Regions from separate parts of the Homo sapiens genome. Here regions 1, 2, 4, 5 and 6 are each reported to be linked to region 3. The links are microRNA targets in miRTarBase. Many come from high-throughput screens and were not tested one by one. Region 3 holds a microRNA gene; each other region holds the end of a gene's coding sequence.
Evidence for each region. Region 3 holds the annotated microRNA hsa-miR-520g-3p (ACAAAGUGCUUCCCUUUAGAGUGU, at 1,452-1,475, shown strand). A microRNA usually pairs through its seed, bases 2 to 8, with sites in the 3' UTR of a target mRNA and lowers its output. Matches are read on the target gene's strand: a 7mer-m8 pairs with bases 2 to 8, a 7mer-A1 pairs with bases 2 to 7 and ends in A, and an 8mer does both.

Region 1: the mRNA of C1orf210 is a reported target of hsa-miR-520g-3p. The part of its 3' UTR that is shown has no 7-base or 8-base seed match.
Region 2: the mRNA of TRIM31 is a reported target of hsa-miR-520g-3p. Seed matches in the 3' UTR shown: 7mer-m8 at 3,461-3,467.
Region 4: miRTarBase lists EIF3H as a target of hsa-miR-520g-3p. Seed matches in the 3' UTR shown: 7mer-m8 at 3,160-3,166.
Region 5: the mRNA of ZNF454 is a reported target of hsa-miR-520g-3p. Seed matches in the 3' UTR shown: 7mer-m8 at 3,542-3,548.
Region 6: miRTarBase lists NEDD9 as a target of hsa-miR-520g-3p. Seed matches in the 3' UTR shown: 7mer-m8 at 1,723-1,729.

The regions. Positions count from the first base shown.
Region 1 is chr1:43,279,037-43,284,276 of GRCh38, forward strand. It overlaps C1orf210 (chromosome 1 open reading frame 210), which reads right to left. Exons shown (of 3, transcript NM_182517.3): 2 at 4,216-4,332; 3 at 2,841-4,071. The coding sequence starts at 4,234. The coding sequence ends at 3,749. Among named protein-coding and RNA genes, the nearest start is that of C1orf210, 3.9 kb to the right of the region's middle.
Region 2 is chr6:30,099,803-30,105,042 of GRCh38, forward strand. It overlaps TRIM31 (tripartite motif containing 31), which reads right to left. Exons shown (of 9, transcript NM_007028.5): 8 at 4,300-4,365; 9 at 3,095-3,987. The coding sequence ends at 3,734. Among named protein-coding and RNA genes, the nearest start is that of TRIM31-AS1, 2.8 kb to the right of the region's middle. RefSeq lists enhancers at 617-1,126, 2,614-3,113.
Region 3 is chr19:53,720,769-53,725,320 of GRCh38, forward strand. It overlaps MIR520G (microRNA 520g), which reads left to right and starts at 1,398; the gene lies at 1,398-1,487. It overlaps MIR517B (microRNA 517b), which reads left to right and starts at 308; the gene lies at 308-374.
Region 4 is chr8:116,641,212-116,646,451 of GRCh38, forward strand. EIF3H (eukaryotic translation initiation factor 3 subunit H) reads right to left here. Exons shown (of 8, transcript NM_003756.3): 8 at 919-3,892. The coding sequence ends at 3,795. Among named protein-coding and RNA genes, the nearest start is that of EIF3H, 110 kb to the right of the region's middle.
Region 5 is chr5:178,964,495-178,969,734 of GRCh38, reverse strand. It overlaps ZNF454 (zinc finger protein 454), which reads right to left. Exons shown (of 5, transcript NM_001178089.3): 5 at 3,302-5,080. The coding sequence ends at 3,762. Among named protein-coding and RNA genes, the nearest start is that of ZNF454, 26 kb to the right of the region's middle.
Region 6 is chr6:11,182,492-11,185,491 of GRCh38, forward strand. It overlaps NEDD9 (neural precursor cell expressed, developmentally down-regulated 9), which reads right to left. Exons shown (of 7, transcript NM_006403.4): 7 at 807-3,000. The coding sequence ends at 2,671. Among named protein-coding and RNA genes, the nearest start is that of NEDD9, 49 kb to the right of the region's middle. RefSeq lists an enhancer at 2,533-3,000.

The DNA.
Region 1 (5,240 bases), not on the chromosome of region 3:
TACAGGCGTGAGCCACTTCACCCGGCTTACTGCTGGAGTTTCTTAAACGTCATGTTGGTGGCTTTGTGTGACTCCATCTTTGGCCTCCACACAGTGCAAGGGATGTAGCCTTGCCTTTGAGGCAGCAGGATGAGACAGTGGGTAGCTGGGTTGGGATTCCCAAGGCAGAGTAGGTAGTGGCAGCTGCCAAGGAGTGGAGGACAAGGTGCAGGGCCAGGGGCAGAGGCAGGCGGGGCCAGGACCCGAAGCCAGAAGACGCCAAACCAGAGAGGGCCTGGCTGAATCCCAAGCTCCCAACACCCCCAGCCCTTTGCGGCTGTGGGCTCAGGTCATGCTCCCTCTTTGCACTTGGGGTCAGGCATGCAAACCACAGTGGGAAGAAATTCCTCCAAGGAATCAAGGCCTTGAAGGACAGGGTCCAAGGTTCTTGTGACTACAGGGCCCTCCTCAGCCAGGCTTGCCACCCACAGCTGGTTCTGAGGGGAAGCCCCAGCTCGGGCACCCTGTGGGGCACAGGCTCAGCAAAATCAACTGCGAGTCTGGGATCAGGCCCTTACCTTCTTCTCCTGGGTCCATCAGAGGTTCTGACTGAGGCCCCAAAGAGTACAGGAGAACAGGGACAGCCAAGCATAGAACTGCACGCAGGGCAGCTCCTCTGTGGTGGGAATTGAAGGAGCCCAGGGGCAGGGGGCAGGCTCAGCTGCCTGGGCAGCAGCTTTTCCTGGTAGGCCAGGACATGCCCCTTAGGTCAGCCTCTGGGGTCCTCCTCCAGGGTCTCAGGCTGGGGCAGCCTCTGCTCTCCCCAGGCCTGTGAGGGGCAGACCATCTCTGGACTCAGGAACCATGGCCAGGTTGGGGGTCATGTGAGCTGGGCTTCCCTCCTCTCTGCTTCCTCCAACTCCCCTGCCAGGGCTTGGTCCGCTGACAGTCTTGAGATGTGTTTCCCGCTCCGCTCCTCTCTGGCGATCTCATCCATTCCTGCTCTCAATGACCCTGGTGCCAAGTGTTCCCAAGCCCGTGTCTGCAGACTAGACTTCTCCCTGTGAACCCAGCAGCCCCGAGGCATCTCCCCTGGAAATCCTGTATCCAACATTGAATCCCCATTGCCCCAACCTGCTCTTCGTCAATGTACCCAGTAACCAAGCCAGAAGCCAGGGTGCGTTTTTCTGATACCTACCTACTCCCCATATCCAAAGTCAACAGGTCCTATCAGCTCTTCCTCCCTCTTGTCTCAAAGTCTGTTCCTATGTCACACCTTAGACAGGTCTTATTACCTTCTCTCGGTGTCTCCCCTCCAATCCATCTCTGCACAGCAGCCAGAATGACTTTTCTATCATGATTATGTCATGCCCTTGCACAAAAAAAGTCCACAGATGAGCTTCCATTGCTCTCAGGTTGAAGTGTGAGCTTGGCATCCAAGGCCCTAACAGATCCACTCTTGGGCTTCCTCACTGCCATGGGCACCCCTCAGATACGACACTCAAGTCCTCTTCAATCTCCTGCCTCTTTCCCAAGCACCTCACTACATTTGCCAATGCCTCACTTTCCTTCTGTACCAGCTCATTCCTCAAAGGCTGACACTGTACTTGGGGAACACATGGGGGTGGCTGCCTGGCTCATGAGAACTGCCCCTTGTCTGAGAATGATCTGGAACAAACAGATGGGCTCCCCAAACCATGCCCCCCACTCATAGCAGATTGTGCTTTAAGCCTATGTATACTTGACCCAAACTGGGCCAAATTGATTCTCTTTTCTGAGCACTTGAAACTTGGAACTGAGAGTTTGGAAGTCCTGGTTATAGAGAGTCCCATCAGTGCCCCTAAACGACAGGATGCTAGGGGTGAAATGCCTGACCTCTGGCTGCTGGGACCGCCTGCTTCCTGCTGTCCCTTTGATTCTATGCAACAGCCAGGACTCTCCCCCAAACTCCTTTCTATTGCTTGCAATTAAAAACAGCTTAACTCAAGTCTTTTCCATCTTAAAACTAGCTCCCTTGTGCAAGAATCTGAGGATACACAATAAGACACAATCTGGGGCCTCAGGGAGCTCCCAGTTTAGCTATGGGGGCAGGCATAGTAAGAGGCAAGTACGAACCGTCATAAAGATTAAAATAAGCCTGTAAATCCCAGCACTTTGGGAGGCAGAGGTGGGAGGATCACTAAAGTCTAGGAGTTCGAGACAAGCCTGGGTGATACAGTGAGACCCCATCTCTACAAAAAATAATTAGCCATGCGCAGTGGCACATGCATGTATTCCCAGCTACTTGGGAGGCTGAGATGGGAGGATCACTTAAGCACAGGAGATCGAGGCTAAAGTGAGCTGTGATAGCCCCACCATACTGCAGCTTGGGTGACAGAGAGAGACCCTGTGTCAAAAAAAAAAAAAAAAAAAAAAAAAAAAGATGGCCAGGTGTGGTGGCTCACACCTGTAATCCTAGCACTTTGGGAGGCTGAGGAGGGTGGATCACCTGAGGTCAGCAGTTTGAGACCAGCCTGGCCAGTATGGCAAAACCCCATCTCTACTAAAAATACAAAAATTAGCTGGGTGTGGTGGTGGTGGGTGCCTGTAATCCCAGCTGCTCAGGAGGCTGAGGTAGGAGAATTGTTTGAACCCGGGAGGCGGAGTTTGCAGTGAGCTGAGATTGCGCCATTGCACTCCAGCCTGGGCAACAAGAGCAAGACTCCGCCTGAAAACAAACAAAAAGATGAAAACAAAATGTGGGCAGGACAGTACTAGAGAAGGGCTCATGGAAGGTGTCTTGGAGGGGGGAGCATCTGAGCAGTGTCTTCTAGCTCTGAGTGATAAAGCCCAGCTCAAGAAAAATAAAAATGAGTGACAGCTTTTTATTTTTATTCAAAATGAAAATAGATTTATTAATTCCTGTGAAAAACATATTATAACCGGATTACCCACTTTATTTATAGGAAAATATTTCATTAAGAAGCTGGCCGGGCATGGTGGCTCACGCCTGTAATCCCAGCACTTTGGGAGGCCGAGGAAGGCGGACTACCTGAGGTCAAGAGTTCGAGACCATCCTGGCCAATATGGCGAAACCTCGTCTCTACTAAAAATATAAAAATTAGCTGGGCGTGGTGGCGGATGCCTGTAATCCCAGCTACTCAGGAGGCTGAAGCAGGAGAATCGCTTGAACCCAGGAGGCGGAGGTTGCAGTGAGCCAAGATGTGCCATTGCACTCCAGCCTGGGCAACAGAGTGAGACTCCGTCTCAGGAAAAAAAAAAAAAGGAAGCTTGGCACTGGTTTTCACCTGCACAAATGTTACCATCTGGGCATATTTGAAATGCTGGCAGGTAGGCAGGCCATCACAGTCATAGAGGATTTAGGAGAAGAGTAGCGTAGGCAGGGGGACCAATGTGAGCAAAGGTGCCTGGGGAAACTGCATGGGAAGTGGTGGGAGGGAGAATAACATTGATTTCGACAGTAAAGTAGGGGAAGGCAAGAAAAGAAACCAAGAGGCCGAGAGGCATGATCACAGAGGGCCTTATGTCCACACTCAAGCCTTTGTTTGGCTTTATCCTGAGAACAGCAGGGAACAGTTGAGAGTTATTGAGCAAGAGAGGGTCATTGTCACTTTGCTGGCTAGTGTCAGGGAAGTGGGGTTTACTCCATCCCTGGCCAACCTTTAAGCCCCAGCCACCTCTGTCCCTGAGGTTCAAGGCCCCCATGTCATAACCACTGTCCTTAAGCTGTCAGGCATGGAGGGAGTGGGGAGGGTCTAAAGATGGGAGCTCAGAGGGAGAAGTGGTCCCTGCTACCCTCTGTCCCCAGCTCGCCAGTCCCAGGCTGAATGTAATTGTCCTCGATGAAGCCATCATCATCCTCATCTTCAGCCACCTGTGGGCGGCCTCCCCTTCCTGTCTCAGGCAGTGGGCGGTGCCGGTAGCTGGCATGGTATCGGCGGCAGAGGTGGCATTTGGCAGCAAGTGCAATGAGGAGCGAGAGGACCACAGCCCCCAGCACAAATCCTACCAGCACAGGCCATGCCCGAGCCCCAGTGCCTGGGCCAGGGGCCACAGCAGACGCTGTGGGGAGCTCCGAAGGCCCAACAAGTGCTGCAGAGAAAGGGACAGCATTATAGGTGGGCCCCAGAGGGGGCTCCCTGGAGAAACCAAGAGCAGTGCAGGTAGGGTCCTTCCCCCAACCCCAGCATCTAAGGGGAAGCCCCCCACCCCCATCATCCTCCCACTGTCACTCACTTTTGTTTGTCTCATTCATGGAGGGGCCTGATGACACCAGTGAGTCTCAGCCTCAACCAGAAAGAGCCCTGGCTCTGAGGAGGCCCCCAGATGCCAGGCAGCCCCAGGGCACAAGTCCTAGAAAATAACATAGGTATGGGTGTCAGGGATGGTCACAGGGTGCACTTTCCAGGTCACACTCACAGCCATGGTAGCCCTGCACAAACTCTGGGGACTGGACAACTGACCACACCAGCTCTCCACAGAAGAGAAACAAGCTGAGCCTACAGAAACTGGCTATTTGTAAGGGACCATCACAGGGTTTGGCTCTGGAAGCTGCTAAAAAAAAAATAAATTGTAGAACTTACTGAGCATTCCTTATAATTCAAGCACCAGGCATCATGCTCACAAAACCCAGTAAGGTAAGTATAAACATTATCCCCACTTTATAGATGAGGGCTCTGAGGCTGAAAAAGGTGAACTGACTCAACTAAAGTCTTCAGATTCGAACCCAGAGCCCAGTCTGTTGCACTGCTTGGTAAGCTGAGGATGGGAGACAGGGGCAGAGGTGGGTCCTGGCTCCCGAAGGTCAGAAAACAGCAATTGCTTGGAGCTACCCAGCCAAAGCGGAGACCACATATGGGGAGGGTGATGCAAGTTGCTACTGAGGACAGGGGCCCTGGACACAGCCAGAGCAGCCCTGGCCCTTCTAAGTTGAAAGCCGCTGCTGCCCACCTCTACCCTCAGCCCTTCAAGCAAACCCCTGTCCTTTCACCTCTACTCAAAGGAGGCCCACACTCTGCCCCCACAGGGAGGCTCAAGCCAGGGAGTATCCAAATGAGGATCACCTGAATCAGGAAATTATCACCCAGGGCTGGGGACACCTAGAGGAGGAACACTTCAATTAGGGGAGTAGCTGGAGGAAGATCATCCAGGCATGGAAACACCTGTAGGAGGAGCACCTGGATCAAAGGAGTGTCTGGAGGAGGCGCACCTGAATCTGGGGAGTATCTAGAGGAGGAGCATGAAAGTTAGAAGTACCTGGC
Region 2 (5,240 bases), not on the chromosome of region 3:
AAGCAGTTGTGAGAAGCAAATGGAATAATGTATCTGAATCCATTTAATAAACTGTTCAACATTGTAAACATGCTGTTAGTAGTATCATAACTGTGTGAAGAAGCAGAAAACACTTTGGACTGGGGGATGGAAATCTTGGCCAGGGTTCAGTATTCACTTGACTTCCCGGCCATAACATCGAATGAATGGCCAGGACTCTCTTTGAGTAAATGAGCTTCTGAGAGGCTCCTAAAGAGGCGACCCCCATCCCTCACGGCTGAGAAGAGTGTGATCATCGTTTAAGGTTAAGGTCCAGGTTGGAAGACCTCCCCAAATTTAAACCTTGCTACAAAGTATTCTTTCATTTACTTTGAACCCTTCCTTCATTTACATCCCTTTAGGAACCAGGCCCTGTAGTGCTCAAGGAGGGTGGGAGAGTGAAACGAAAAGGAGTGAGATGCTGCTTCTGTTCTCGAGGACTTCACAGTCAACTTGCGGTAAGTGCTGCAGGGAGATGGCTGTAGTGGCTTTGGGAGTGTGCACACTTTTCCAACAGAAAGTACCAGGAACCCTGCCTGGGGAAGGCTTCCCGGAGGAGGTGAGGTGGAGCTGGTCCACGAAAATTGAGTGGGATTTCCAAGACATCAGTCTTTCGCGGGAAAAGAGAAATTAGGGCATGGTTTTAATTTAGTAAATATTTATTAATCAAGTACCCCATTCTAGGGTCCGTGCTAAGTGTCTGGGGTTGGTAGAGTCAGGAAGTATAAAATCAACTTAAGACATTTGGGAAAGATCTCCCTTTGTAGTAAGGAAGTTGAATCTGTACACAATGAAAGGAAACAAGGTAAAAGGCGCGAAGTCCATGACCATGACGAGGGCTGTGAGAACTGTAAATAGGGATTTGGGCAGTCCCGGCTGATTCTGAATAAAAGTCCGGAGGGGCGTTACTTTCGGGTCTCGGCCTGTGTGTCCCCAGCCCTTTGTTGTCCCCTCCGCAGGAAGGTGAAGGCTGTTTATGTAATCGGCGGCGCCTCGCGGGCGACTGGGGGAAGTGGATGGGGGAGCCTGGCCAGGGCTGACTGAGCGCCCCTGGAATCCGTGCTCCGGGCGTTGGCTCACTCCCGCCCCGACACCTGGGCCCGCCCTCCCGCTGCGCAGCCACGCGCCGGGCAGCAGCGTGGGCTGGCGGGCGACTCCCCACGCCTCCTGCAACACCGCCCTCTCCCTACCGGAGCGAGGAGGCAGGAAAAGCCTAGAGACGCCTGGTCCCATCCGCCTACCCAGTCCCCAGCCGGCCTGAAGGGAGGAAGAGGAAGGAACCCATAATCATCCCAAACTGGCGCAAATGGTGGGTTTTACTGTCCAGAGGTCATTTCGTCTCTGCGTTTCCAACCTCCTCGCCCTTTTACTTTTTTTGGGCTCACTCAGGAAACTGGAGCAGTCCTTCTCTGGGTTTAACTTCAGTCCCTCACATGGCAACACTAGGAATGATCAAGACTTTTGTTGCGGGTAGTGGTGATGTGGGTTTGAGAGGAGGATGCATCTGGTCGTGGGATTAATTTTGGTTTCTGAGTATTACGAAGAACTAGAAAAGTTTTGCGTATGTCGGTTTTCAGGATGGGGTTCAGATGGGTCAAAGCCCTGTGCAGGTCCACGGGGGCTGCAGGAGGTAAAATGGAGGAGGAGACAGGCGGACAAGCTGGGGTCAGTGGTCCACTCCCCTGTGTCTGTCTTAACCGAGATGCAGCTGGATGCTTGCACGTGGCAGCTTTTTCAACCACCTGTTGATAGACGTTCGTTTCCAGTCTTATCCTGTTACCAACTGTGCTGCAATGAACAGCCTTGTGTATAGCCTTTTAGTGTATTTGAGCCTTTCTTTTCGACCCAGGCATATTGTAAGGAGAGAGGAACTGAGATAGAAGGAATATTTAAAGCAGGGTCAGAGAAATCAGGACTGGATCAGGAGGAAGCCCGAAGGGTGTAACCTTCCCATAGGGCTGCTGGAAGCCTAGCTTCAACCCTTCCAGCTGCAGCACATCCCAAACTGGGGCGAGAAGCGAGTGAGGAGGAGATGCAGAGGAAGGCAAAGAACAACTCTAGCGACCCAGGGTGATCCGGGTGCCGGAAAACAGAAGCTGGAAAAAGGAGATCTGCCCCGGAAAGGAGGCATGGAAAGTGTAGATGTGGGTCCTCGAGGTGGCGTCGTAGAAGACTACCTCTCCGCCCTAGTAATCCAAGCGGACGCCCACTTTGTTCGGACAGATCGGGAGATCCTCCCGGGAACCGCTCTCGATGAGCGCCTGGCACTGGGAGCCGCTGCTGTGCAGCTCCACGAAGCCGGTCAAGGGCTCCACCTCCAGGAAGCCCCGCCTGGGAACCAGCTCCAAGGCCAAGCCCCGGCACGCAGGCCCCGCCCCCGGGCCGTTGGAGCTCCGCCTCCCAGGCGCCGCGGCCGGAGCAAAGGCCCAGCGAGCCCAGCACTCAGCGGAACCTGTAGAAGCGTCGGGGGTTGCCCCGCTTCTGCGAACCGCCCTGGGATGCGAGGTTCAGCGTCACTATCTCATCCTGGGAAAGGATGAGATCCGGGTGGGCCGAGGCTGCGTCCAGTGTCACAGGGGCTGTGTGAAGATGAGGAGAAAGAGGTGGCCAACCCCGGGTCAAGTTGTCCAAACCCCCTACCTTCCTCTGATACCCCCGTCCCACCACCCGCCCCGCTCGATGCCGCCAGAGAGGCTTTCTCTTCCCAGTCACAGCCTTTGTGGTCCCCAGAGAAGTCTTAGGCCCGGCACCGCCTCCTCCTCCTCAAAGTTAATCCCTAAATTTCACAATGTGTTGTTCTGTGGGCGCAGAGAGAAGTTCTTCATTGGTGGTGGTGGTGAGATCATTTCAACACCCGAAGATGAGACCATCTCTTCCTTGTCCATTTCCCGTGGCCCCTAATTCCCATGTCTAAGACAAGAATTGAGTCTAGTATAAGAGGGTCAAGGCTCAGACTTTCTGAGGGCCAGTAATTTTCTAAAGTGGAGTTCCTCAAACACAGGGATGAGTGAAAGTGTTGGAATACAAAAGGAGGAATAGTCATCCCCCGCCACACACACATACACTTTTACTAGGATTCCACGTTCAGTCGCAGTTTATTAAAGTTAGAAGTGTCTCCATCCACCCCCTACAGAGGCTTGCGTGGTGGTTCCAGTCTGCTAAATATTTCAGAATGGGGACCTCATTCTATCTACTGATTTATCAAATCTCATTAATTAATTTCCCTTGCTGATATGAGGGGTTGGGAGAGAAGGGGGACGTGGGAATGTAAGGAAGAGCGAGAGTGGTCGGGCTCATGGGGTTTGATGGACTGTGACCCAGGCTGGCGTTGCTCCTCTCCGGATTTCACTCCTGGCTGAACTGGTGCCTTCGGTAAACAGCTGCTTAAAGAGTGCGGGGACTGCTGCAGGGACTTCCTTTTTCCACTAGGCGGCACCACAGCCAAAGTGATAAGAAGTCAAGCGTGGGGCGGGTGGCTGGAGATTGTCTCTTCCCCTCCTTTTGCTCAAGAATTCGTCCATTCCTTCTCCAACTCTCTTCACCACCACCCCCGCCCCCATCTCCACTCTCAGTAGCCCGAGCCCTCCCATTCTCCACTCCTTCGACCCAATTCCACTAAGTCAAGAACCGTGGTCGGTCTCAGCCACTCACTCAGCGCCACTCTATGCTCCGAAGTCCGTGTAGCACCACCGCTCCCCGTGTTCTCTGAGCTGGCTTAGCTTGAAGGAACCTCACAAAACCAAGCCCGGATCGCTGTCAGCCACTCACTCAGTGCCGCATGGAGCTCCTCGGACAGCGCAACGTCAAATGTCTTCGTATCCTGAGAGCTCGCTCCTTGACCAGAAATCTCATCATAAGAGGCCAGGAGACATACTGGAAAAGTGACTTTCCCAGCAGACGAGGCCCGAAACAGGGAGTGGGATGGGGCTGAAGAGTGGTGATTTGGTGGCCCCGATGTAGTTCTGCCGCCTTTGCGGGAGAAGGAAAGGAGAAAAGAGGTCAGCGGGAGCACCTCGGCAGCAATCCTCCATTGCCAGACAGCACAGCTGAGCTCTACATACAGCAGGAGGGATGGAGGTGAAACTCAAGAAAGTACACCTGAACAAGTCGGAGCGCCCTCTGTTTCCTGGCAGAGGTGTAATTTGGGGAGGAACTGAGGAAATGGAATAAATGAATTCATTCATTTATTCATTTATTCCATTTAGTGGAATTGGGTGGATACAGCATTTTGACCACCTGTAGACTTAGAGGTCCCTTAGTATTCAGAGACAGGACTCTTACCTGCAGAAGATGACCCGGGCTCTGAGGTTTTGTTCATTTTATGATTATTTTTCTGTAACAAGCCCCCTAAAAATTGGGGAGAGAAAACCTATTTGGTCTTGATAACCAGAAGCTGCAAATTAAAAACAAAAACAAGCACCCTGCCATCATCAATCAGAACAGTCAATGGTTCTCAGTGGGACCCATTCCCCACCCAGGGGGAAGTGTGGAAACCTTTCAGGTTGTCTCAGTGACAACAAGAGTGTGGTTCTCTACTGGCTTATAGGGCTTTCTGGGGCCTGGGATACTAAGCATTTAACAGGGCAAAAGTCATGGAGCATAACAAAGATGGCCTTTCTAAACACCGGTAGCTCCTTTTGTGGAGAAATGCTGGTGGAATAGGATCCCTAAATCCTGCTCTCTGGCTTTGGAATGCATTCTGTAGTTTCTGGCTTTGGAGAAAGGAGTTCTAATTCTCTCTCTTTCACTTAATGATCATATGACCTGGGTAACTTACCTCCCCTCCCGGAAGCTACATGGACCTCACTGTAAGTTGCAGATAATAACACCTATCTTGGAGGATAGTTGTGGGGTTTTGAAATATTAGATGCGCACATAGTGGTCCTTTAAGAAATGGTACTTCTACTGTTATTGTCTTAGGTGGCAGAACCATATCTAATGACTTTAGCACAGGCTGTTATTACAGTGGGTCTCCATCCCCTGAGCTGTACTGACCTCACACCCAGAGGAGTTTGCCTCGAAACCTGCTGCCCTGTAGGGGCAGCAAATACTACAGAGGTGGAGCTGCCTCCTTCTTGTCCCACTTTTTCCTCCCTGTCTCTAGGAGTGAAGAAATACATTTGTAATTTTCTATTACTTCTGAATACTTCAAAGTTTGGGATTAGTGACTGTTTTGTGAGTTACCTGAGTTTAAAATAATAAAACAACCATATGCCTGTTCT
Region 3 (4,552 bases):
TGAAAGGCCGAGGCGGGTGGATCACGAGGTCAGGAGATCGAGACCATCCTGGCTAACACGGTGAAACCCCATCTCTATTTAAAAATACAAAAAATTAGCGAGGCGTGGTGGTGGGTGCCTGTAGTCCCAGCTACCCGGGAGGCTAAGGCTTGAGAATGGCTTGAACCCAGGAGGCGGAGCTTGCAGTGAGCCGAGATCGTGCCATTGCACTCTAGCCTCGGCAACAGAGCAAGACTCCGTCAAAAAGAAACAAAAACAAAAACAAAAAAAAGAACCCTACAGTACTGGAGCAAGAAGACCTCATGCTGTGACCCTCTAGATGGAAGCACTGTCTGTTGTCTAAGAAAAGATCGTGCATCCCTTTAGAGTGTTACTGTTTGAGAAAAGCAACGTTGAAGATGCTGCTGATCTTGGTAATACATTTGCAGAGCGTGCTTATCATCAGACTTGCATGATGTTGGGGTTCTCTTTGGTTTGTTTTTTTCCAAGACAGGTTCCCTGTTGCCCAGGCGGGAGTGGGTGGCACCTCCAACCGAGATCTCTTGGGCTCAAGTGGTGATCTTTTTATTTTTGATTTTTTGAGATGCGCTCTCATTCCGTTTCCCAGGCTGGAGTGCAGCGGCAGGATCCCTGTTGACCGGAAACTCCGCCTCCCAGCTTCCGGCGATTCTCCCACCTCAGCCTGCCGAATAGTTGGGAATAGAGATGCCCGCCATCGTGTCCTGCTAGTTATTATTTTTATTGTTGTTGTTGTTGTTGAGATGGAGTTTCACTCTTGATGTCCAGGCTGGAGTGCAGTGTTGCAATTTAGGCTCACTGCAACCTCCACCTCCTGGGTTCAAGCGATTCTCCTGCCGCAGCCTCCTGGGTAGCTGGGATTACAGGTGCCTACTGCCCCACCCAGCTAATTTTTGTGTTTTGAATAGAGACTGGGTTTCACCATGTTGGGCAGGCTGGTCTCAAACTCCCGACCTCAGGTGATCCACCAGCCTTGGCCTCCTAAAGTGCTGGGATTACAGGCGTGAGCCACCGCCCCTAATCTCACGTGGTCCTCTAGAGTCAGCCTAGACTCTGGTCTATCCTGGAGGATGTTTGTGTGTGAGACAATGTATATTCTTCAACATCAGCCCAATTCTCTTAGCTAAATGTAAGGTATGAGTAGTAGGTATTCCTTTTTCTCTTTGGGGACAAAACTCAGGACGATCGCCCCTTGATGAACAAGGCTAACCTGCTGAGCCTTTGAAGCAAGGAATTGGAGATGGTCCTTTCAGGGGTTTATGTTCTGGATTCCATAAAACATGTAAACAGGGCCAATAAATGCATTTTTATTTTTGTATCCGTTTTAACCTGGTCAAGGAAAATTCCAACAAGAAACCCAGAGTGCTGGAGCAAGAAGATCCCATGCTGTGACCCTCTAGAGGAAGCACTTTCTGTTTGTTGTCTGAGAAAAAACAAAGTGCTTCCCTTTAGAGTGTTACCGTTTGGGAAAAGCAGTGTTGAAGTTGATGCTGATGTTGGTAATATATTTGCATGCTTATTATCAGACTTGGATGATGTTGGGGTTCTGTTTTGTTTTTGTTTTCTAAGACAGGGTCTCTGTGGCCCAGGCTGGAGTACAGAGGCACTTCCAACCTAGGTCTCTTGGGCTCATATGGTCCTTTTTGGGACAGTCTTCCTCTGTGACCCAGGCTGGAGTGCAGTGGCACGATCTTGGCTCACTGCAATCTCCACCTCGCGGGTTCAAGCTATTCTCCTGCCTCAGCTTCCTGAATAGCTGGGATTGCAGGGGCCCGACATCACACTTGGCTAATATTTGTATTTTTCTTTTTTATTCATTTATTTATTTTTGAGATGGAGTCTCGTTTCCCCAGCTGGAGAGCGGTGGCATGATCCCGACTGACTCCAACCTCTGCCTCTCAGGTTCAAGCAATTCTCCTGCCTCAGCCTCTGAAGTAGCTGAAACTACAGGTGGCCGCCACCACGCCTGGCTACGTTTTGAATTTTTTTTTTTTTTTTTTTCAGTAGAGATGGGGCTTACCATGTTGGCCAGGCTGGTCTCAAACCCCTGACCTCAAGTGAGCCACTCACCTTGGCCTCCGAAAATGCTGAGAATACAGGCATGAGCCACCACCGCGCGCCTCCCAAAGGCGTGAGCCATGGTGCGTGGCCATCAACACCTCTTACTTTATGGAAATTTTTCTGGCACTGGTATAGAACCTCACATGGGGTCAGGTGGAGTTGAGGGGACCTCAGTGTCCCTGCAGATGGGATGAGCAAGAGCACGGAGGTGGAGTGCATGGGGCTTCAGTGTGTATTGGGGAAATGAAGCTGAAATCTTGGGTGCATGACCAGGAGATAAATGCATGAGACGGGGGTCTCACTATGCTGCCCTGGCTAAAGTGGTCTTAGATCCTCCTGCCTCTGCCCCTCCCAGGCCTTGTTAGATGGGACTACATGTAAATATTAACCCATGCACAGGCAGGAAGAAAGTAAGGACCATTTTTTGGTTCGTCCCGGCCCTCAGTTAAACTTGTGTTTTAGATAAACAATGTATTTGAGATGTGCTTAAACAATAAATGATACGCTATTTAGGTGTGGGCATCTTTGTTTCCCCCTAATTTTAATGATGGGACTAGTCCAGGTATGGTGGCTCCTGCCTATAATTCCAGCACTTTGGGAGGCCGAGACAGGAGGATCACCTGAGGTCAGTTGTTCGAGACCGGCCTGGCCAACATGGTGAAACCCCGTCCATACTAAAAATACAAAAATCAGCCAGGCCTGGTTGCACACACCTGTAATCCCAGCTACTCGGGAGGCTGAGGCAGGAGACTCGCTTGAAGCCAGGAGGCTGAGCTTTCAGTGAGCTGAGATTGCGCCACTGCATTCCAGCCTGGGCAACTGAGTGAGTCTCAGTGTCAACAAAGTAAATAATAGTCTAGGCACAGCGGCACACGCCTGTAATCCCAGCACTTTAGGAGGCTAAGACGGGAGGATCACCTGAGGTCAGGAGTTCAAGACCAACGGGGCCAACGTGGCAAAGCCTTGTCTCTACTAAAACTACAAAAATTAGCTGGGTGCGGTGGTGCACATCTGTGATTCCAGCTACTCGGGAGGCCAAGACAGGAGAACCACTTGAACCCAGGAGGAGGCGATTTCAGTGAGCTGTAATGAAGCCATGGCATTCCAGCCTGGGCCACAGAGCAAGATTCCGTCTCAAAAATAAATAAAACAAATAAAAATACGTAGATAAATACGGGACCGTCGTGAATTTGAGTGTCACCTTTGTGGAGCAGCCACGGTAATCTCTGTCATTCCAATTTTTTTTATGTGCACTACCAAAGCAAGAACTTGTGTAGGAATTATTCTTCCTGTGAGTATGCGATGTATGGAACTTTCCTTGAGACAGGGTCTCAAAAATATATCATGTATATTTTATATATTCTTATCATATATAATATAATCATGTACACACAAAATACTCTTCTAAATACAGAGAATACTCTGATATCACCTTGCGTATTTTTTGTTTGCATGTGTCTGTGTTTGGTTGTTTTTTTTTTGTCATATTTTTGTATCCCTACTTATATATTTATTTTTAATTTTATTATTATACTTTAAGTTCTAGGGTACATGTGCACAACGTGCAGGTTAGTTACATATGTATACATGTGCCATGCTGGTGTGCTGCACCCATTAACTCATCATTTAGCATTAGGTATATCTCCTAATGCTATCCCTCCCCGCTACCCCCACCCAACAACAGTCCCCGGTGTGTGATGTTCCCCTTCCTGTGTCCATGTGTTCTCATTGTTCAGTTCCCACCTATGAGTGAGAACATGCGGTGTTTGGTTTTTTGTCCTTGCGATAGTTTGCTGAGAATGATGGTTTCCAGTTTCATCCATGTCCCTACAAAGGGGTTGGTTATTTTTGAGACAAGGTCTGACTCTATCGCCCAGGCTGGAGTGTAGTGGTGCCATCTCGGCTCACTGCAACCTCCACCTCCCACCTAATCCTGCTGAATTAGTGTCTGCAGGCATGCACAACCACATCTGGCTCACTTTTGTATTTTTTATACACATGGGTTTACACCATGTTGCAGGCGCTGGTCTCAAACTCCCTCCCAAGCTCAGGTGATCCTCTGTCTCAGCCTCCTAAAGTGCTGGGATTAGAGGTGTGAGCCACCACACCCCACTGGTATTTGTGTGTTCCTGTTCAAATTTTATTGAGGAGTTTTTATAACCAAGCCTGTGGTCCATCCTGGAGGATGTTTGTGTGCATGACAATGTATATTCTTCAACATCGTAGACTCGATGTTGGATGCTCCCATCGGGACTGTGTGTCCCTGTACTGGAACTCGAGTGAACACTTGGCTCTAAGTTCATTGCTGTTTTCTAGAAATCCAGCCCAATTCTCTTGGTTAAATATAAGGTGCACGTAGTAGGCATTGCTTTTTCTTTCTGGAGACAAAACTCAGGAGGATTGCCCCTTGATGAACAAAGCTAACCTGCTGAGACTTTGAAGCAAGGAACTGGAGATGGTCCTTTTAAGGGTT
Region 4 (5,240 bases), not on the chromosome of region 3:
TTGTTGTAAAAGTCATTATTTCATTCTTTTTTATGGCAGAGTGGTATTCTATGGTGTAGAAATCAAATTTTGACTTTAATAAACTCATCACATGGCAACTACGCGAGGGCTTAACAGCCTGTAAGAATAAGAATGCAAGTACTCAGACAAAGAAATGTCTGGGAAACACCGAACTCCTACAGAATGGCCCAAACTCCCCACATTGGAGCAGGGGTATAGCACTTGGAAACCATTCCTTGCATACCCGGACTATATCCCTAAAATCACCATTGAGGCTTATGCAAAGCCATTTCAGGTTCTGCCAGTAGCTGTGGAGCCAAACAGGCTCAAGGTGCATTATAGGGAAGTGTCTATTTATATAAAATGAAGTCTCAAGGCAGTAAGTACTAGGCCACAGCAGTTTGCTCCAGCAAACTGTAATTTCCCAATAGTTCTGGCTTCCTATTTCTCACTCCCTGTCTCCAGTAATTTGGAGTCAAATGAACCCCTCTTCCAATCCATCCAAAGAGGTTCTGACTCCAACTTGGGAGTCACCACTTTTCAATAATAGACTCAGATCTTTATCCTTTTACCACAATGACTATTAACCACTGTCACCCCTTCTGTACAACCCAATTGCAGAAGGATCCTCTGTTAACATGGCCCAAAGCACTCTCCAAGGCACTTATGACTTCATACTCTATCAGCTTGTAGGACTTCATGTTCCCTTCTTGGGTCATATGCTGATTAATAAGCTCAGAGGCAGAATCTGTGTCCTGTCTGCTTTGGAACATCAAGAGTGCTTGACATAGTAGGTATCTGATAAATACTTCTTAAATTAGAAAAAAAAAAGAGAGAATTTTTAAAAATACAGAGCTAGCATAGAAAAAGATGCCCAGTGAGATTTTTTTTTAAAATGACAGTGTATTACATACTTAATTTGGTTGAGAAGTGTTTATTGTAAAAATGGAGTTTATAATGAAAATAAAAAATTATTTCATAACATTCTGATACCACTACACCTGAGTTCGATGCCAGCATGGTTTGAAAGTGAAGCTGATACAAGTTTTCTAAAGGATGTTAAAAAACTATAGTATGAAGAATGTAATAATATTTTAGAAGACATTAAAACTTAAATATTTAGATGCTGTATATGAGAAATCACACCAAGCTCTCTTAATTAGGTTAACATTAGACAACTACATCTCAATTTCCAAGCTTCCAAAAATAGGTAAAAAAATTATTTTAGTTTAAGTTGATATTAAAAACACATTGGGAGCAGGAATCCATTCTTTCAGGTTTTAAGAATAATGTTATGATTATTAGATTATTATCAATGATTAGAAAGTTAATGTCAAATATCTTCTACTTTCTTGGTTTTTTAACATTCGATTTTTTCATTAGATTAACATGCTAGCTTTTCCTGTCTTTCTGTTCTTGGGTAAGTGAATGATTTATTAGACCTGGTGCTCAATTTACGAGCTTTTCTCATTTCAACTTGAAGAAACTGCAAATATTTATAGAAGATGAATCACATGTATTTGTTCCTGAAAAATGTCAGAATACAGCACTCAAATCAAATGCCGAACAGAAGCTATTCCCTAACACTACATACTGTGGCGAGTTAATTTCCACTGACATGTTTTCCTAAACAGTTTTTCCCACTATGATTAATTCCCAAATCAAAAATTACTGAAATCTTTCATTAAGTGTGTATTCATGTTACCAAGATATAGAAATCTAAACAATCATAAAGAATTTAAGAATCACACCTTTAAAAACATATTGAATTGACTCAGTTAAATTACTCTTAATCCTAAAAAATACATAAGTTATGTTCCAACTGATTTTCCTTGCTTTTATTTTGCTCGCTTGCTACTTTAAGGGTGCTTTGTTTAACTCCACAATAAGATCCCAAGTCTAGAAAATTAGAATGCAGAGGAAATGAACCAACAGAGCATATACTCCACAAGGGCAGGGGCCATGGCCAGTTTTACCTGTTAATATATCCCTTCTGTCTAACACAGTCACACTCAAATTTGTGTTGACTCCAATTTAAGGTTATCACTATGGGTAGGAGGGCAAAACAGCAGAAACTTTTGAAGGCAATTTGGCAATACAGGTAAAAGGGCTGACATTTTACATACCCTTTGACTCGTAAGTCTATATCAAAGATTATCCTAAAGAAATAATTATATATGTGAGCAAGTACTTGGATTCTAGAATGTTCTAGGCCCTGAGCTTTTTAAAGTAAAACCCAGCCAACAACCCAACATCCTGGAAGGGGTGCCTAGAATGCCTCCCTCATCATAAATACAGGCTGAGTGGCTGCCACATACCAACCAGAGTTTGCATGCTTCACCCAAACCCCCAACAAACGTCTTCAACACTCACAGCCACCTTGTGAGGTAACAGACCTGCTCTCATTTCTTATCTTATCTGGTTGACAAAAAGTGAGGCACAGGGAGGTTAAATAACTTAGGAAAAGGAGGAGCCAGGTTTCAATCTGGCTGCCTGATCCCAGAGCCCCAGTAGTGCCTTCAAAACAATGTTGTCCAAAAAATGAATTTCTCGACTCTCCTGATCTTTCACCCATCTCCTTTTTTGATAACCCTCCTAGGGGATCATAATCAAAAATTCTCATAGGCACACCCCCACCAGCTGGCAGATCTCACTGATTTTGGTGATGCACAAACAGCAAAATCTGTGATTATCTTTAAAATATAAAAATTACTAAAATATGTTTTTCCCAATGTACTACCATTCTCCTAATTCCTAATTCCTCATTCACAACACTTGCTGTTAGCAGAATTATACTTCATGGTTTCGGAAGACAAATGTGAAGTCCTAAATAATATAAACAAAATGAAGTTTACTTGTGGTGGCATGATTCTTTTCTTTAAAATTTCTGTGGCCTGTCCAGGAGTGGTGGCTCATGCCTGTATTCCCAGCACTTTGGGAGACAGAAGCAGGTGAATCACTTGAGGTCAGGAGATGCAGACCAGCCTGGCCAACATGGTGAAACCCCATCTCTACTAAAAATACAAAAATTAGCCAGGCGTGATGGCACACGCCTGTAGTCCCAGCTACTTGGGAGGCTGAGGTGGGAGAATCGCTTGAACTCAGAAGGTGGAGGTTGCAGCGAGCTGAGATTGTGCCACTACACTCCAGCCTGGGCAACAAAGTGAGACTCTGTCTTTAAAAATAATGATGATAATAATAATCTTGTGTCCCATGGCCTATGAGTACGGGGACTGGTTGACCATCACCTGCAGAAATGAAAAGGCAGACTGACCGGAATTAGGCCAAGTGATTCCGGGTCCGGGGACAAGGAATTCCTGGGCAAGTACATGAAGCCTGGACTTCTCTCGGGGTGCTCATTTGGGAGCAGCGAAGTATAAAAATTCAAAAAAAAAATATTCACAGTAGATGCCAGGGCCTCGGGGTCAGGAGCTGGGATAAGTAGTTGGGAGAAGTGGGTTGAAAGGTGGCACCTGAGAGGCAGCAAAAGTGGTGGAGCCTATAGGTTTCTGCCTGGTGAAACTTCCGGTCAGGGCTTGTTTTAGCTTTTAGAAATAAACAAGTATAAGCAAACAAAAGTAAGCCAGAGAAAATACATCTAAAATCAAATGAGCAAGCAGTCAAGATTTTGTTTTATTTTATTATGGCTAGAAAGACACTGTTATAGCCAAAATCGGCAATGACACTAAAGAAATCCTCTGTGCTTTTCAATATGCAAATATATTTCTTCCAAGAGTTGCCCTGGTGTGACTTCAAGAGTTCATGTTAACTTCTTTTCTGGAAACTTCCTTTTCTTAGTTGTTGTATTCTTGAAGAGCCTGGGCCATGAAGAGCTTGCCTAAGTTTTGGGCAGTGAACTCCTTGATGTTCTGGCAGTAAGTGTTTATCTGGCCTGTGCATTTGAGAAAGAGATAGAGCCATAATGTTCCACAAATTGTAAAATGATCCAGAAAGCTAGTCAAACAGAAAAATCAGCATAAAACAGAATCACCTGTTTATTGTTTTGAATCCAGAGTTTATTTTTCCATAAGGGATAAGAAATACAAGTTCTTTTGAAAATAAGCTACTGTCCACTCTCAATTACATGGAGAATAAAGAAAAACTACTCCTCAAAAGCTTATCAGCCCTAAGGACATAATAGCTGTCAGTCAAAAGGACTGACTAAATAGATCAAACCAATGCTGTACAACTGAGAAAACAGCGCTGACTAGCCTTCACAGGTAGAAAGGAGATACTAACAATAAATCACAGAGCTGCAAACCAGCCAGACCCACTGGACCCAGATGTGAACAAGTACGGTAGGTTTTCAGTTTGTGCTTTGGGAACGTTAAGGAGTTTTCTCCTACGAGCCAGACAGAGTAAGAGTAAAGAGTTCACTTGAAGAAAGGGCTCCATCATTGCTTTTTATGTCTTTAATGATCTAATCCCATGCAACAGTTACATCAGTTACATACTTCTTCAAAATATAAGGATCTCAATTCTGTTTGAATTGGACCTTTGGGAAGGAATTGTGTCTCATTTCCAAATTTAATTTGTATGTACACTAGAAAATGTTAAGGAATTTGGAATTTCCTCCCACATTACAAATGTATCAATATAATTTGAGAAATTGCCAATCAGCTTTTGAGTAGGATTTTCACTTTGATAAAATCTTCTCACAGGTAAGGATCTGACTGAATCAGATGGCATTTAACATTTCTATAAGATTATAGCCAAATAAGGGCATGAATGTCATATATTCAAAATCAAGTCCTAGTACAGGACACAGGACCTCTCCTGCTTAAAGGTGGTATTAAACATTAAGTATAACCAGAAAAAGTTTATCCGGAAATACATTTGTGCTGCCACAATTTAAGTCCAAGTAAGGGAAATAATTTCCTAAATTCAAGTCAAGTACCCACTGTACAGTGCTGTGCTGGAAAAGGAAGAGTAAGAGGCCTGAGCTAAGTGGTCTTCTGCATTAAGACTGTAAACAATTTTTCTGGGTTTCCATGAAAAAGGACTCATTTTAGAAAGTTTATGCCATCTCAAAAATGTTTAGAAACACAGAGTGAAGCACTGAAAGGACCTGGACAAAAGAACAAACTCTTACAAGTTCTTAGATTTCAGATATTACAGGTGCTAGATTCAAATTCATCCTGCAACTATTTCAAACATACTAGCTTTTACGGCATGCTTTTCTGTTTGTAAATTTCTCACTGTCTTCTGCTTCCTAAGAAACGAACAAAACCAGCCAGGTT
Region 5 (5,240 bases), not on the chromosome of region 3:
AGGTGGGAGGAGAGGCCAGGAGCTGCTTCTCAGGCTCTTACCTTTTTCTATGGCCCAGGTGAGGGGCGGGGAGACTGGCCTCATGTGAAGGTCATGGTCGTGGTGTACCAGAGCAGTCTTGTGTACTACATGAAGCAGGCGCAGGCTGGACGTGTGAAGACAGAGCTGCTGAAGGTGGCACATCACCAGGTGGCCAAGTCTGTCCCTGAAGAGTCCCAAATCGTGGTCCTTCATCTTGTCACAGCTGGGTATGTCGACATGGCCATTAGGACTACAAGAGCAAGGTATGGAATGAACTGCTCTTTCTAGGAAACACTGGTTCTTTGGGGATTAACCCAGCTGAAGGTGGGGCACAGAAAACTCCCTCTCAGTAAGTACTGAAATGTCTAACACCACACAGATCAGCTGGTAGAGAAGACTGTGGCTGAAAAAGTCTTACTGCAGGGTCCTCAGAAATGTACTTTTAGGGGTTGAGCTGGGGCAGGTGAGAATGCCCAGGTAGAGAGCAGTATCATCCACGTGAGAAAAGTATGCCTGGGACTCAGGCAGTGTCCCCTCCCCTAGTCGAGAAGGCCGTGCAGTGAGCTCGTCATCCTACAGTGTAATACAGTAAAGCCACTGCCTGGCCAAGTACTAGTACCATCAATATATTCAAGTCAGCCTGGGCGTATCTAATAGGCCAGTGACGTACTTTTTGCCTTTCCAGACAGGGATGAGTGAACAGGCATCTCGGAGGACTGATTTCATGAAAACCCAAGCCTGATGAGAGGCGAACTCAGGGAGAGTGCACTGTCTTCTCAGATGGGGGCCTTCAGCCTGCACTTAATGCCGCTGACGCTAGTTCCTGGAGCCGCGGCTGAGGTGAATGAGACTCAAGTGGCTGCACGCCTTGGTCCTGGCTCAACGGTAGGCACATACCAAGTAGTGGTAGTTCTCATGCGTTCATTACAGATAGACAAAACCACCAACCAACTCAGCTTAGAAACGTGCTTCTCAGGGATTCAAGGTAAGGGGGTGGTAGTTAAGACCTGGCACATTACATGGATGGGGTGAAGACAGACATCTGTAGCAGTGAACGTGGTTTTTTCAGGTTTACTCTGGAATCTGAGGGTGTCAGCTGCGTGAAGCTGCAGATGAACTTCTGAGGACATGGGACACAAGCAATCCCAAGAAACCTCTTGAAATACTGCTTCACATGCAGCTTAATAGGGAAGAAAGTCTGAGTTGCTGATCAGCTAACAGGAGATGCTGGCCCACAAAGGTGGCCTTTATTAGATGAAGGCTGAATTTAGATTACTTGGACTTTGAAGCTGCTGGAAGCTTCCAAGTCTATGTTGCAACCCAGAGCCCACTGAGTTCTACCATGATATAGAATATCCTCTTCTGTAACATGGGGGTGAGGTGCTCCATTCTGAGGGGTCAGGGGGTTGCTCAACTTGACGGACAGCACTTCCACATACCAGGAACTTGCCACTTCACTTTCCAGAAAAATTTGCTTGGCCTCCCATCTTCACTGCATGATATATTCCAGCTTGCAGTAGTGAAGGCTCCTCCATTCCTTGTGGTAGGAAAAGGGAGAGGGCCCTCAGAGGCTGTGTGTGTGTGTGTGTGTGTGTGTGTGTGTGTGTGATGCACAGATGTTACTTATCTGTGTGATTTCTACTGAAAGCACTGAAGGATTAAAGACGGGGAAGGTGGCCGGGTGCGGTGGCTCATGCCTGTAATCCCAGCACCTGGGGAGGCCGAGGTGGGCGGATCACAAGGTCAGGAGTTTGAGACCAGCCTGGCCAACATAGTGAAACCCCAACTCTACTAAAAATACAAAAAATTAGCTGGGCATGGTAGTGGGTGCCTGTAGACCTAGCTACTCGGGAGGCTGAGGCAGGAGAATCACTTGAACCCAGGAGGTGGAAGTTACAGTGAGCCGAGATCACACCACTGCACTCCAGCCTGGGCGACAGTGCAAGACTCTGTCTCAAAAAAAAAAAAAAAGAAAAAGAAAAAGAAAAAAAAAAAACAGGGTAAAGGAACCATACTTGCAGGACGACTGTACCACTCAAACTTTTGAACACGGACATGGCCCTTGCCAGAGAATATCAATGGTGCTAGTGACCACTTCTTGACTCATGGAATTACTCAACATTTTTCTCACCACTGTCAGCATGAGTCTTTAAATAGTGGAAGGCCCAGATGGAGGAGAGGAAATGACCACTTCCAAATGCAAAAGCAGAAATTCAAAGCTGTCTGCTTTCCTATGAATATAGAATTACTACCTCCAGAAACCTAGAAAAAGCAGGGGAAGGACCAGGATGCAGCAGTTTATCCTGGGAGTAGTAAATGTACTCTAATGCAGTGGACACAGTGGACTGTACAGCCAGGGGAAGAGAGTGGGTCAGAGCATTCTGAGAACTGGCCTTGGGGCTTTCACCTCTTATATCAATTGCACATAGAGAAATGGGCAGCGACAGATGGAGGTGACTGGGAATAGTACAACGTAAGTGGGTGGGATCATTGCACCTGAAGCTGAGCAAGTCCCTGACTGATGTGTAGAGTCACTAAGTACAGAACAATTGGAGGGTAAAGGCGGCACAGGCAAAGCCCCTCCTTCAGGTGCCATCCCAGGATCAGTCAAGCTGAAGCCCAGAGGAAATGCATAACTCAAGAATTTTGATCAAGTTGTGCCTTCTGGACAGAGATACCAAGTTCTGAAGGCTGGATTTGGGTGTGATATTCAACATCATGGACTGTGTCTGAGACCAGACCACCACACTCCCCATAGGGGCAGTGATAGGTGGCACCATGCAGACAGTTAGGCGTTGCTAAGTCAGAAGAGGGTCATTTGGGGCAAATGAATCGTCTCACAGGGATTCTACAGGGATGAAGCCAGCAGACAGACCAGAGAGATCTGACAATGGATGGTTTGAAGCAAAAGGCAGGAAGCATGGTTTAAATAAGTGTGGGTGACGTACTTTCTCTACACTGGGTGTCGGTGGTGTGGGTGAGGAGAGGACTAAGGCTTCCATTAAAGCTGGCAACTCTCTTATGTAAGAGAATCTAGTAGAGTGCAACGCTCGTAGGCCATTTTACCTTTTTGTTCCTTTGCTTTTCAGCTTTAATTTTTACAATTTCAGTTTCTCTAATAGTCAAAATGTAATTTGATAAACCAATTTTTTAATGCTGTTAATGAAGCTCCATTTTGGTTCTGATGCTTGGTAATTCAGACAAATCAAACAGTACTGCTATTTGAGGCAGTATTAAAGAATGAGGAGTGTTTGCCATTCTTTTTTTTTTTTTTTTTTTTGAGACTGAGTCTTGCTCTGTCGCCCAGGCTGGAGTGCAGTGGCACGATCTCGGCTCACTGCAACCTCTGCCTCCCGGGTTCATGCCATTCTCCTGCCTCAGCCTCCCGAGTAGCTGGGACTACAGGCGCCCACCACCATGCCCGGGTAATTTTTTATATTTTTAGTAGCGATGGGGTTTCACCCTGTTAGCCAGGATGGTCTCGATCTCCTGACCTCGTGATCCGCCCACCTCGGCCTCCCAAAGTGCTCCCAAAGATTACAGACGTGAGCCACTGTGCCCAGCCGAGTGTTTGCCATTCTTAAATGCCCAAACCCCATGACACTGTGAAACCTGACCCTCAGTAAATAAAGTGACTATCTTGATGCAAGCTTTCATAGTTATTCTCTAGAACGGATTATCTCACATTCAATAATTCATCTACTCAGTCTCAAAGGTCTTCCATACAAACTGCATTCATATCACTTCTCTCCAATATGATGTCTCTGATGCTGAATGAGGTTTGCAGTCTGGTTAAAAGCTTTCCCACATTTATTACATTTATAGGGTTTCTCTCCTGTGTGAATCCTCTGATGTTGAGTCAGGTGAGTGCTTCGGATAAAGGCTTTCTCACAGATTTTACATTTGTAAGGTTTTTCCCTAGTATGAATTCTCTTATGTTGGGTAAGGGCTGAATGGTCACTGAAGGCTTTTTCACATATGTTACATGTATAAGGTTTTTCCCCAGTATGAATTCTCTGATGTTGGGCTAGTGCTGATTGGTCCCGAAAGGCTTTCTCACACAAGCCACATCTGTAAGGTTTCTCTCCAGTGTGAATTTTCCGATGTCGTGCAAAGGATGAATTATCCCTGAAAGCTTTCCCACATTCATTACATTTATAAGGTTTCTCTCCAGTATGAATTCTCTGATGTTCAGTAAGGGAAGAGTTCACCCTGAAGGCCTTCCCACATTCATTACATTCAAAGGGTTTCTCTCCAGTGTGAATTCTCTGATGCTGAAGGAAACTTGTACTCTGATTAAAGGCTTTTCCACATTCATTGCATTTATAGGGTTTCTCTCCACTGTGGATATTCTGGTGTTTGGTAAGGTGTGCCCTGCACACAAAGGCTTTTTCACAAATGTTACATTTAAAAGGTTTCTCTCCAGTATGTATTCTATGATGATGGGCAAGGTGTATATTTCGGATAAAAGCTTTTCCACATAAGTTGCATTCAAAAGGCTTCTCTCCAGTATGAATTTTCTGATGGTACGTAAGTGAGGAGCTCACTGAGAAGGCCTTGCCACATTCCTTACATTCATAGGGTTTCTCGCCAGTGTGAATTCTTTGGTGATGGATAAGGTGCGTACTCTGGTGAAAGGCTTTCCCACATTCTCTACATTCATATCTTTTCTCCTTAATATGAATTTTCTGATTTGCATTTTTTTCATTATGAATTTTCTGATGTTTATTAAGAGTTGAACTCTTAGAGAAGACTTTTCCACACTCACTACACTCAAAGGCATTTTTGCTAGGTTGAAATCCCTGACTTTGATCACTGTGAAGAGATGAGCTCATAGTGCTCCCGGATTCATCACATTCCTGTGATGGGGTGTTGGGGTGAGTGAGTACCACTCGCTGCAAACTGATCTCCTGGCCTCCACATTGCCACTCCAGCAGGCTAGCACACTTCCAGTGACTACTGCTACTGAATCTTTCCTTTATTGTCCATTGATCCAATTCTTCTTCAGGAATCTCTGCCTTGACAGTAGATTTCTTACTGGCAGGCATAGTCATCCAGTCTGAAAGACATTAAAAATAAAAATGTCTGTTTTACCCTAGCAAAACATTTGGATGGGGCAAGATGACGAGCCTCTTCATAATGCTAACAGAAAGATTTCAAGTTTGAAGATTTTCTGAAGTAACAACAAGAAAGGACAGAAAAGAGGGGTGAACAGAGGA
Region 6 (3,000 bases), not on the chromosome of region 3:
ATAAATCATTTTTTTTCTGAGTTAAGTTTTTAAAGTGTTTCAAATATGGAAATTTTGTCTACCTAAGATAACAAAGATTTTCTCCTGTGTTTTCTTCTAGGAGTTTTAAGTTTTACATTTAGGTCTATGATCCATTTGGGTTAATCTTTGGGTAGAACGTAAGGTACACATTCATTTTATTTCATAGATCTAGTTGTTCCCGCACCACTTTTTTTTTCGGAAGAGTTTTCATTCCCTCCTTGAAGTGCCTTGACATTTTGTCAAAAATAAATTAATGCTTATATGTGTGGGCAAAATGGTACATGATACATTTAAATAATTTGTCTGTAAATCTCAGTGGGATACCTGAATAAAAGAGTGGGCCAACCATTAAAAATGATAATTACATGATTACAAATCTCTTATTTTCATTAAATATAGTTTGCTTTAAATTATTTCTTTATGACTATTCCAAAACAAATAGAAAAATTTTCTTTGATTCTAAAAACCACATGACTGGTAACATCCATATTATGAAAACAAATCATCCTATATGTTACTGAGTGTATGGGTTTTTTGGTGAACACAAGTCTTGTTCCAGATATTTGAATTTGATAATGTTCACAGATTCTAGAATTTTCTTTGAATGCAAATACACTTGGAAGTGACACATATACAGAGAAAACCAAACCCTCAATTTTCCTAAAAAAATCCAGACCTATAGCATTGCTAAAATAATCATAATTTAACTTTTTATATTAGGAGTACCAAAGTAAGCCAATATTTAATTCTGTGACAGAGGAGTATGAAAAAGAAAACCCAGTGGCTATGAAAACAGAGATCTAAAAATTTAATGATTTAAAAATAGCCTCTACATACAAGACGGCAAAGAGTAATACAGATTGAACATTTGGTTTTAAAAATGTGAAATGTCTCCACTTAGCGTAGATCAATCAAGTCAGCCATCTCCTAAGAAATACACATTATACAATGAAATCTACAAAGACACACTTTTTAACTTCAAGCGTTGTTGATTTTCAGCAACCCTCTTCCCACATGAACATTTCCTTGTAATGTAATGTATGACTTTTAATCTTCTTTTGGCAGAGTAGGACTTTGAGAATTATAATAGCAGTTGTTTTGAAAAGCACCTTCTATGATCATTTATTTCCACTGATTTTTTTTTAATCACTCTGAGATCATGCATTCTTGTTTTTTAAATCCTTTTCTGTTCCAATGATTTGGTTGTTTAAAACAAGCAAGCTTAATTCAGTCAGGCATATATTGCAAATAAAAACATGTTTCCAAGTAGGCTGGAATAAAAATGCTAAATAAGAACTGGGCCAAAAGATCATAGATAATGTGCTTCTTCTCTTGGTAATATGTGAATACATTTACCCATGGGGTAGAAGTATTTCACCTGCCCCATGAAGAACCTGATGGCTTGTGGTGTCTGTGCTGTGTCAATACTAACAGATGTGAGGAGACAGACTATGGAATGGACGCTGTGACTATCTGTGAGATAGTGGAAGGGGTTATACACACTGGCCACAGGAAGTTGCAAAAATTAGATGGACTCTGTGTAGCTAGCCACTCTTGAGTGTCAGGTCTGCATATGTGAGTTTTAAAGAAGGTGCAAGATAGCAATAAATTCCCTTAGAGAGCAGGATATGTCCTGGTAGCTCTATAGTTCCATGATCAAGGACCTGGCCAGTTTCCCTCAGGTAATGGGGGTAGTAGCACCAAAGTGAATATTAAGAGTCAGAAAGGCCTCTACTTGCAACTGGCGGATCAAACCATTCCCCTATTTTGGTGAACAATCATAGTCTGATACGCCTTTGTAAATCTTTGCTGCAAATATGGTTTTTACAACTCTAAAAACATCTTTTGGAAAACCTCATGACTGAACCACTCACAAATGCAGAAGATTGAACAGCCCCAGGGAGGCAATTGCTCTCCTTTTATTGTAGCTGTCTCTCAGTATTGAAACAACCCAATCCTAACTGTGGTCCTGGCCTCTAAACACACAGGTCTCTCTTCCCTCCAGCACCTGAACTATCAGAGCTTGGATCCACATATATATTCTGAAATTTGCTCCGCAAGAGGGCTTTTGGGCACTTGGCCATCATGTGTTTAAGATGGTCAGTTTTGAAAAGAGTTTTCCAAACAAGAATAAGTCATGCTATGCCTCATGATTTGGAAGGTGAACACTTGCAAATAAACTATGCTTCCCAGATTTGGGAGTGCCAGGCTCAGAATCATCACAAGGACGTGGAGAACAATATTATAACCAGCTGGTATGTTTTTAACAACAACAAAAAAAATGCAGCATTAGAAGGTGCTTACTAAGGTGCTTCGTAATTCATGGTTTTTTTTTTAATGAAATGCATCAGACAAACATCTACAAACAAACATGAATACATGGGCATACAAAAGCACGTGGACAAGTTTTCTGTACAGTTTATGTCTCAGATACTTCTATGTATACATAAGAACCACTCAGGGGGAAAAAAAAAGATTTCCCTCTCCAGCTCCCTGAATTTCTGAAAGTTGACTGACCCATAAAATGTTAAAATATTTCATTTTTATATAAAATATCTACAAAAATAGATAACATTTACAAAAACCAGACAGTATTTCCAGTTTTCCTTAGTAACCGTTAACGCAGTCCCCTTCCTCTTTTTTTTCTTCTCAGAACGTTGCCATCTCCAGCAAAGAGCGCTTGAACAGCTGGGCATTTCTAGAAAGGTCTGTCACTTGGTGCACCATTTCCTGCAGGGCCGTGGTGCTGGGGTAATGGAGGGCGGCCATCTTGGTTGCCATGACTATGGTCTTGAGCTGCTCGCAGAGCTGGTTGCTGGAGTTCATGACTTTGTTGCGAATGTCCTGGGCAGTCACCTGCCGTGTCAGCGTGTCTCCAATGAACACCAGTTTGTGTGCACTGAGGATGACAAACTTGCTGTGTGCCACGAAGATTCGCGGGGGCTGGGCTGAGCTGACACAACTGAAGAGTGCGTCAAT